Homo sapiens: one gene and its partners. The protein of the gene in region 3 interacts with the protein of the main gene of each other region in a pairwise test. Each region holds a gene or a part of one and is shown on either strand. Other genes may lie near its edges. The genes, in order: MID2, C18orf54 and MAGOHB.

The links.
Region 1: the proteins of MAGOHB (region 3) and MID2 interact in binary tests that used the Homo sapiens proteins (3 or more experiments, as listed by UniProt).
Region 2: the proteins of MAGOHB (region 3) and C18orf54 interact in binary tests that used the Homo sapiens proteins (3 or more experiments, as listed by UniProt).

What each region holds. Positions count from the first base shown.
Region 1 is NC_000023.11:107,929,500-107,932,298, reverse strand, and holds the end of MID2 (probable E3 ubiquitin-protein ligase MID2), read right to left. Parts: 3' UTR 662-2,799; downstream 1-661. UniProt on the Homo sapiens protein: E3 ubiquitin ligase that plays a role in microtubule stabilization. Mediates the 'Lys-48'-linked polyubiquitination of LRRK2 to drive its localization to microtubules and its proteasomal degradation in neurons.
Region 2 is NC_000018.10:54,371,347-54,375,009, reverse strand, and holds part of C18orf54 (lung adenoma susceptibility protein 2), read right to left. Parts: intron 2,545-3,663; coding exon 2,413-2,544; intron 797-2,412; coding exon 726-796; intron 1-725. UniProt on the Homo sapiens protein: Might play a role in cell proliferation.
Region 3 is NC_000012.12:10,603,570-10,607,191, forward strand, and holds the end of MAGOHB (protein mago nashi homolog 2), read right to left. Parts: intron 2,806-3,622; coding exon 2,706-2,805; 3' UTR 624-2,705; downstream 1-623. UniProt on the Homo sapiens protein: Required for pre-mRNA splicing as component of the spliceosome. Plays a redundant role with MAGOH in the exon junction complex and in the nonsense-mediated decay (NMD) pathway.

The DNA of each region.
Region 1 (2,799 bases), on a different chromosome or scaffold from region 3:
TATTTGCCTAGGTTGTTCTTCAATTAAACCACTAAACACACAATGTTCCAAATTCTTTTCTCCTTTGAATTTTACTCCTTTTACCTTTGGGCTGTAGTTCTTATAGGCCCCTGGTCTGATGACCTGTTTCAAGTCACTTCTCTAGCTGCCGCCCTTGACTGCCCTGCTTCATTCACTTCATATCGCATGATCCCTTTTAGTCTTAGTGCCACTACAAATCTGATTAAGATATGCCCAATTCTAGCCCTGAGGGACCTCCTGGCTTCCTCCCAGTCTCCTCCTGCAGGCCAGCTGTTTTAACAGTAAGTCAGCTCACTTGCTTCTGGTGCTACCCTAATCTTAATCAATGGGTTCCAGCACTGGGATTTTATTTGTTCTTTAATTCTCAACTTCTGCTCCAATCTCTAAAACTGAATGTGTCATGTTTCCTTGAACCCTATATCTTCATTTCTTTGGTCTTCTTGACCATATCATGCTCCTGAAATCAAAGTCTTCTTGATTGGATTTTGAGCTCCAGACCCCCTGGGTCCTTTCTGTCCAGATCACTACCTATTATATGATCCTTGGTTTCCCCTAGTCACTTACCCAATTCCAGGAGAATCCACGGCCATCTTCCTTTTAGTCCTCCCCCAATTCAACTCCAGCGAGAGACAACAAAGAATTCATGAATACATATATATTTATTTAATTCATAATATAGCATTTTGGATGGGCTGGAATATTGTAGAGAGGGATGAGGCTGTGTAATCCACAGATGCTCATATTTCTGTCACTAGGAGAGACACTATTGGTCCAGAGCTCCCAATACAAACAGGCGTGGGGTAAAGCATTTGATAAAAAATAGTCCAACAATAGTCTAATAAATAGTCTAGCCAATAACAACAATACAGCATATGTCTGAAGCTGGCAGACTACACCATAAAAGGCAGTTTTGTCTGACCTGATGGCAATCAGTTTGGCCAACCTGTAACACACAGCCAAATACAGCCATTGGCTCCAAGGCTGCAGTTGGCTTCAGGAGCTAGAAATAAGTGTAGGAGTGGTTCTTACCTACCTGCCTGACACTCTCCATTCCTTGGAGGAAGCAGTATCAAATATTTGAGTTTATTCAAAAGTCCATCCGTGGATTGCTCCATCTTGGTAGTCATATATAAATATGTAAACCATGGAAGTTTAGAAAATTCACCTAGAGTGTTTTAGCCGAAAAGAACAGATAAGTGATTTTGCTGCAATCTGAATTTCACTGCATCTAAAGATACACATAGAATTGTATAATAAAAACACATCCAGATGCAGTTACTCTTACTTACAAGTAGCCAGAACCTCAATGTGGCATTAAAATTTCTTTCATACTCTCAAAACAGGTTTTACTTTATTTTTGATTATTTTTGTGCTTTCTTCAATAAGACAATATAAAAAGTGGAAACAAGCATAAATTGCAGACATAAAATAATCTTCTGGTAGAAACAGTTGTGGAGAACAGGTTGAGTAGAGCAACAACAACAAAAGCTTATGCAGTCACCTTCTTTGAAAATGTTAAATACAAGTCCTATTCTCTTTGTCCAGCTGGGTTTAGCTAGAGGTAGCCAATTACTTCTCTTAAGGTCCATGGCATTGCCAGGATTCTATAAAAGCCAAGTTAACTGAAGTAAATATCTGGGGCCCATCGCACCCCCACTAAGTACTTTGTCACCATGTTGTATCTTAGAAGTCATTTTTCACTGTTTGACTCAGAATTTGGGACTTCAGAGTCAAACTTCATTGCTTACTCCAAACCCAGTTTAATTCCCCACTTTTTTAAGTAGGCTTAGCTTTGAGTGATTTTTGGCTATAACCGAAATGTAAATCCACCTTCAAACAACAAAGTTTGACAAGACTGAAATGTTACTGAAAACAATGGTGCCATATGCTCCAAAGACATTTCCCCAAGATAACTGCCAAAGAGTTTTTGAGGAGGACAATGATCATTTATTATGTAGGAGCCTTGATATCTCTGCAAAATAGAATTAATACAGCTCAAATGGAGTAGTAACCAAGCTTTTCTGCCCAGGAAGTAACAAACATCACTACGAACATGAGAGTACAAGAGGAAACTTTCATAATGCATTTTTTCATTCATACATTCATTCAATAAACATTAGCCAAGCTAATGTTCCAAGCACTGTGCCAGGTATTAACAATATAACAACAATAAAAGACACAGTCCTTCCTCTCAAGGTGTTCAGTCTAGTAGGGAAGATGATTATTCATTAAAATTTTTGGTGCATCAGAATCATGAGGAGCTTGTCAAAAATGTAAATTCCTGCCTATGTTCTCAGATATTCTGGTTAGGTCAGGAGTGGGAACCCAAAATCAATTCTTTTAACAAACACTAAAGGTGATTCTAACACAGGCGGTGTGAGGACCACACTTTGAAAAACACTGCTATACAATGTGATTATTGCTGAGAGAGGGGGATGCTTGGGGTGTCTTTGGATCTCTAAAGAGGGATGCATCATCAAGTCTAAGGAATAAAGAGTTAGTCTGGTTGAGAGAGATAGAGGTGAGGAAAGGTAGTCCAGGATAGAGTCAAAAGTAGGGTGGGGAAATTAGATCTTTGTCCCAGGGCACTAAAATCTAAAAGACACCACAATAAATGAACAGTTTTGGAGAGCCAAGGACAAGGCAAAGGAAATTGTTCTACTGGAATGGAGGTTGCATTTTCTGTACTTACAGCATTTTCACACTATTCCTTTAATTTAAGAAAAATTTCTGTTGTTTACTCTGGGCATTAAAATTGTTAATCATGTTTCTGCTGCA
Region 2 (3,663 bases), on a different chromosome or scaffold from region 3:
AATTAGATTCGTAAGTTTACATGTCTAGTGTTTTATTTTCCACCAGTTCCTTAGATCACAGAAGCCTAAGCAAATTCTCAAAGTACAAAAGGTAGCCAAGTGAAATGGTGTGACTAGAGTAGAAACTTTTAATCTCAGTATTTCCTAAGTTCAGTATTCCATCTTCTGAGGACACTTCATAGTCACACAACAAACTCCAAAATAAATACCCTTCTCTTCTGTCAATATCATGACTATAGAAACAACTTGTATTTTTCTCCATTTTATTATTTAAGACACTGTAACTAAGAAAATTAGACCTATCTTTATATCCAGGTCATTATATCTACTTTAGATTTCTGTAATGATGTTCCAAATCACGATCCATTTATTATTAAATTTATTCTAGAGAGAATATATGAAAACACATTTCATACAAGTTACTGTTATAGGATACTCACAAAAATACTATCATAAATTGTTGCTATTACTACTCAAAAATGAGTCATATCCATTATATTTTAGAGGTCTAAGGCTATCTCATTAGGTCCTTAGAACACTTTGAATAGGAAAAAGCACAAGTTTAAAAGAAAACAATGTTTTTTAGTGTAAACAGTGTGCTCCAAGAAGCTTAAATATGCCTAGTAGTGCTACTCTTAAAACTACTTACTTCTACCCTGTAACTTTACATATGTCAAAGAAATGGCTAAGATGGATTTGTATCCATATTAGTAAAGAATACTTACTTCTGAAGTGACCTAGTAATAGGAATCATACTTTCCTTCAACTGTAATTTAGAGAAATCATCTTCTGAAACCTATTATTAAAAACACCAAATATAACAAAATATTAAAATTATATAACTACAAAATTAAATGGTATTGAAAATGTGATTAAAACATTAAAAAATATTTTCTACATTTCCAAACAATTCTAATTTTCAAGAGTATTAAATATTTTTATTTTCCATTTACTGTAAAAACACTACAACTAACAGCCATTTTTCAACTGTCCTAAAGTATACTTCTACACATATGTCCATTAAAAATCAAGTCTTCGCTTAAAATTATGACTTTATTGAACAGGCTTATATCTCAATGATGTTTAGAATGAGAGGGGAAAGAAAGATAGATTACATTCTACATATTAATGTTATGATTATTAGAATGTAAGGACAGAAATTAAGAAATACAACTCAAATGAGCAGACTATGAAGGTTCTCAAAAGCTGATCCACTCACTTGTAATGAAAACTCAATTTCACAGATCTACTGAATAACAATAAAACAATGAGCCATCATTTATTGAGCACTTACCATGTACCAAGCACTATACTAAGTACTTTATATAGTTTGTCTCAATTTGTCTTCTCAACAACCTCACTATACAGAAAAGGAAATTGATAAATGAAATAAGCCCAGCACAGAAAGACAGACACTGAATAATAATCTCACTTATATGTAGAATCTGGATGTGGGGACGGGAGTTGCAGAGATGTTTTTCAAAGGATACAACATTTTAGTTAGGCGAGAAGAATAAGGTCAAGAGATCTATTGTACAACATGGTGACTAAAATTAAAAACAACATATCGTATACTTGAAAATTACTAATGGAGCAGGTTTTACATGTTCTCCACAAAAAGTATGTGAGGTAATTAGCTCCCTTAGCCATTTCATGATGTTTCAAAACATCATGTTGTACACCCAAAATATATATATATTGTCAATTAAAAATCAATAATTTTTTAAATAGGAAACTGAAACTAAAGAGGTTAAATGATTTGCACAAATATTGCACTTGCTAGTAAGTGACAGAATTCACAATCATATTTGGGAAAATATAAACTCTATGTTCTTAAACACTATACTTTTGTGGGAAAAAATTCATCATATAGAATGGCAGCCTAAAACAGAAACAGATTTTCAAATTCCCGGGAAATACACAAATTGAAAAAATAAAATGGCTCTAAAATAAAACTTGATATAACTGTATTCATAACAGCCAATGAACACACAGTAACAAAATTAAATTTCAAAGGAGAAAGGTGTGTGAAGGAATCTAATGTTGAAAAAGTTTTCTAGGCCTCCTCGAATATAACTACCAGAAGATGGGCCACATAGATTAATTTTGTAGAGGATTACAAAACTCTTACAACCCTTTGATACTATAGTTGTAACACCATCATAACTAAATAAGATGTTGGATTTATAACCATAATAGAACAATCTGTTTAGAGATAAACACCTACAGAAATCAAACAGAATTAAACGTGAGTACATTACTTCCTAACAAAAAAAAACTACTGCCACTTACAACATGTGTAATGTGGCATGCTTACTAACATAAAACTATAAGTAGGTCTATTAAAAGATGTAGAAAAAAATCTTTATACAAATTCACAAATCTCAATTCATAAATCATGTTTGTGCTTACTTGTTTAATCTCTTCTTTTGGATCTGTGGTCTTATTTTGATTAAAACGTTCTTGTACTGCTTGAAGGTTAAATAACATTTGTTTCAGGGCTTCAACAGGACCATGATGTTTGCCTCCAGAGAGAGTACAGCTCTAAGGTTAAAACAGATGATAGTATAAAGTTAACCATCCAAGCTCAGGGAAAGAAGAGTTTTATTTTGTATTAATTTCCCCAATAGAAAATTAATGTAAAACTCCAAACAATGTATGTCAATAAAGTATTTTAAAAAATCAAAATTGTAACTCACCACTTCCCCATCCCCAGGCCCCAGGTGAAGTTACTTAAAGACAATCATGATTAACAGTTTGGCATATCCTTTCTAGTCATTGCTGTTTTGAAATAAATAGTGCACGTTTATATTTATGACAAATTAATTTCGCACATTTAAAATCACAAATTGTAAATGAAATGAAAGGTCTTCAGAGGACAGGTAAACCAACATGTTCTTTACAGCTGATCAAGGACTAAAATTTCAAATACAGTATTCTCTGCACACTTTAAAATATGTTTTTATAACAGAATGCTAGCTTTTCACCTCTTCATGGGCCATACATTCCTTCTACCTAAATAACACTCATAGCTCGATTACCCCTGGACTTATTTGTGTTCAAAGAACGCAGCAGTACTTAAGACACATAAGATGGTCAGGATTCTTTTAAGATAATCGGTGAGGGATATTTTAAAATTTCTTTTTAAAAGTCTTACCAGTCTATTATTTTACATCTTTCAAATGAGTTTCTGTGTCCTAACAGCTATCTACCAAGTAACAAATAGGACTGTACAGATGTCTGTAATTTAATATATTTCAGCATAGACTGTGCACCATAAGTACTACTTAAACTTCAATTCTATAGAAAGTTGTTGATTAGCATAATATACTCAAGGTAAGCAGTATGGTTAAAAAGATTTTAAAGACACTTCCACAGTTATAGAACAGGATATAAGAAATGGAGCGGAAAGGTAAAATGCTATAGCCATTGTAGAAAACAGTATAGGAATTCCACAAGAAATTAAACATAGAATTACTGAATGATCCTGCAATTTCCCTCTTAGGTATATATCCAAAAGAAGTGAAAACAGGGACTTGGGTAGATATTTGTATACCCATGTTCACAACAAAATTATTCACAACAGCCAAAAGATGCAGATAACCCAAGAGTCCAACAACAGATGAATGAATAAACAAAATGTGGTACATACATACAATGGAA
Region 3 (3,622 bases):
ATGGCAATTTAAGAGAAAATAGTTAAGCTGATCTGTAATTAAGACTTCTGATTCTTAAATTAGTATTCTCTCCACCACATCACACAGTTCAAATTAGGACAAGGTAGATGCCAGAGATTTTGAGTGGTAGTTATCCAACTTTACTGATCATCATACGGAAGTCAGCCAAGGCAGATTCTGAACTCACCCTCAAATCCTTCATTTACCTTTGTTGTTTATTAAATTTTTAAAATTTTCTATTCGACTTCATTATCCATTCATGCTAGGAATCCAGTTATTAATTAAAGGGGTCAGTGGTTAAACTTACAGCACAGTCCATGCTCATAGGTTCACACATTTCAAATCAAAACGAAGTAGTCTAACAATAGAATATATAAATCATCTCAGTTACATTAATATTTACATTAAAAATATCCATACAAATAGACTCAGCCTGATACCAATGAAATACCAAAGATAAATAATCTAAAGGCAAATAATCTAAGGACAGAGCAAGACAGCAACCAATTCAACAAACTTAAAAAACACCTACTATATGGAAAAGACTGTGCTAGGGTTCTGCACTATCTCATGAATGGGGAAGAGGTGGGATGAGGTGCAGACAGTACTTGGAAAAAGTCTGATTATTTCAAGTGGTCTCTTTATTAAGGAAGGAGGTAAAAGGAACATAACCTGAGCGCAATAAAAATCTAGTTTCATATAAAACTAGTATTATACAAAATTCAGTTTCTAATGATCACTGTCCATCAGCAACTTACAATCAAATAAAAGACAGATCAAAGTATAAGAAAATTGTAGACGGTAATATTTTCCTAATGACCTAGTCTCCCATCTTGGTTTAAATATGAGAAATTCTAGTAGATAGTGGGGATAGAGCTAAATAAACGAAAACGTAAGGAAGTTAGAGAACGGGGACAAAGACTTAAAGATTTTTCAACGTAAGCACTATTTCTCCTCAACCTTGTTCAGTTTTTAATGGATCATCTTATTCAACAGGAGCCACAACCTGTTTTGAGGAACAACCAACAACTGTGGGCCTACTGGAAGTTCAAAAGACGATTGTTCCTGTTTCTGAGGTTGACATCTAAATGCAAGAAAATTACAATACGATTTCATACTGCACAATCATCAAGGTCTACAACTGGAACAGAAACATTTTACATACAAAAGACCTGAAGATGATAGCGTACTTGCATAATGAAGTGGAAATCATTTGACTTTCCATGGCAAACCTGAAGACAATGGGCATGCATTTTGAGGAGTGAAAAGGACCATCTAGTGCTCCATGGCAAACAGGTTACCAAGCCATGCTCTAGAGCTATACTGTCCAAACGGTAGCCGCTAGACACGTGGCTACCTAAATTTAATCAAAATTAAATAGCACTACAAAAAAAGTAGTTTATTGGCACCAATTACACCAGTTAAGTGAAAAACCAAGATTTATTATAATAGAGATATTACAGTAAAAAAGATGTTAAGTATAGAATCTAGGTAGGGGTAGGCATATAGGTGTTCACTTTATAGTTCTCAAGAGTTTTTAATGTTTTATCCTTTTCACGTTAGAAAAAAATTGTTTAAATAGCACCATAAATTCAGTTATACAAGGCACACCTCAAGTAATCAGTAGGCCTCATTTGGCCAGTTGCTACCCTATTGGACTGCACATAGAACGTTTCCATTATTGCAAAAAAGTTATTGGACTGCCCGACTCTAGAGCCTACCTGCTCAGGAGTCCTGGCAAGCCTTCAGAAACTAATTATTCCACCCAAAATTCAGTGCTAACTTGTTCCTAGGGCAAGTGGATTATAACTACTGGAACAGTGCAACTTTTTAAGAGTGGGGCTTCAGATGGAAGAATAAAAGGAAACAAGGAACATGGTTACTAAAAGTAATGAAAGAGGAAATCTATCAGAAAGAGGTTGAAAGGAACTGGGAAACTGAAGTGAGACTCGTGGTCAATAGGAGTTAAAAATATTTATGTACATTCATACATACATATATGTTTGTCTAAATGTTTAACAATTTATAAAGCTGAAAACTCATTTAGTTCTCCCCCCTCCCCTACACACCAAATACATTGTGAAATAAGGAATAAAGACATAATCAAAGATATGCCTAACATGGGGTAGACTGTACTCTTGTAACACTTTAGGACCTCACTGCTTATAACTGAAAATATTTAAATGTGAATAATCCCTGAGGGGTTTGTCATAACTGTAAAAAAAAACTAGACCTTGTATAAGCCCCCCAAAATTAAATCCAATCATGTATGAAGGAAATAAGGGACAATCTACACTTGCCTTTCATGGATGGGAATCTGGCTACATAGTTCCACCTAAAGTATCTTCTGTCACAGGATATATCTACCAGAACAATTTCTTATTATCTCTAAAGTGAATTAGAGACATAGCCTCCTGGAAAAAACAAAAAACTACTCTGCAACCAGGATTTGGTATGTTTTATTAGAGCAAATTTTTAACAAAAGGTGGCTTTCATTTACAGAATTTAATGTGTGTGGGGACTGTCCAACCCATATGGACTCAAGTAAGGATAACCATTAAGCTTGCTAATGTATTTTCTTATTTTCAGTTTACATACAAATTTTTTTTGTTTGCTTCACATTCATAAAAACCCCAATACTGTAAATGACAAATAACCCCTCCCATCCCTTAATTAAATATACAAACAGCCTGAAAACATACAATTTAAATTGGTTTAATCTTGAAGTGTAATCCAATAAGACTGAAAACTAAACATTTCAAGTCTTGTACCAAATAGTAAAATACTCGAAGGCCTTCAGGATCCCTAAAATTTAAAAAGGTAAAAGTTACTTTTTCTTCCTAGGATAAAACAATTCTTTAAATGCCTAAAACAAAACAAATCAAAATCTCATAACAATTAAGTTAACAAAATTTAGGAGAAAGGAAGGATTTTGCTGACAACTAAAATGAACATACAATTAATATCTTTTCTATACGAAAAAATAGTTTCTTCATCAGTATTCATTTTAGTATTTAAAGAGTTCATATCCTTATGATTGTAATAACCACATCATAAAAATGTCTAATAAAGCAGAAAAAAATAATACTGTAATGCTACCATTTCATAGAATAACTATAAACATTTTGATGTTTCTCTATTTTTTAATAACTAAAATTATTCCTTGTGCCCTTTTTTACATTACTTTCCCCACAGCATTAAAAAAAAAAAATTCCCTAGTAATTTTTAATTAATTTAATAATTCTCTCCTTGTTAGACACTGGGGTTAATTTCCTATTATAAATAATACTTCAATGAGCATCTTCATGCATAATAAAGCTTTTCCAATATTTAGGAATAGTTCCATAGAAGAGATGCTCAGAAATGAAATTACTAGGCCAAAGGTGAATGAAAAATGTCAACAGTTTTTGATGCATATTACCAAACTGCTTTCCAAAAACCATTACCAATTTATAATCCCAGTAGGGTATCAATGCCACACCCTTACCAAATGTAGGAAAAGAAATTTGATAGTTTAAAAGCATTTGGATGGTCTTTGTGAACACAGATTTTGCGTCCAATAGTTATCATGCATTCATTCCTTTCTCCTTTCCACTAACAAATATTTATTGAAAGCATCTAT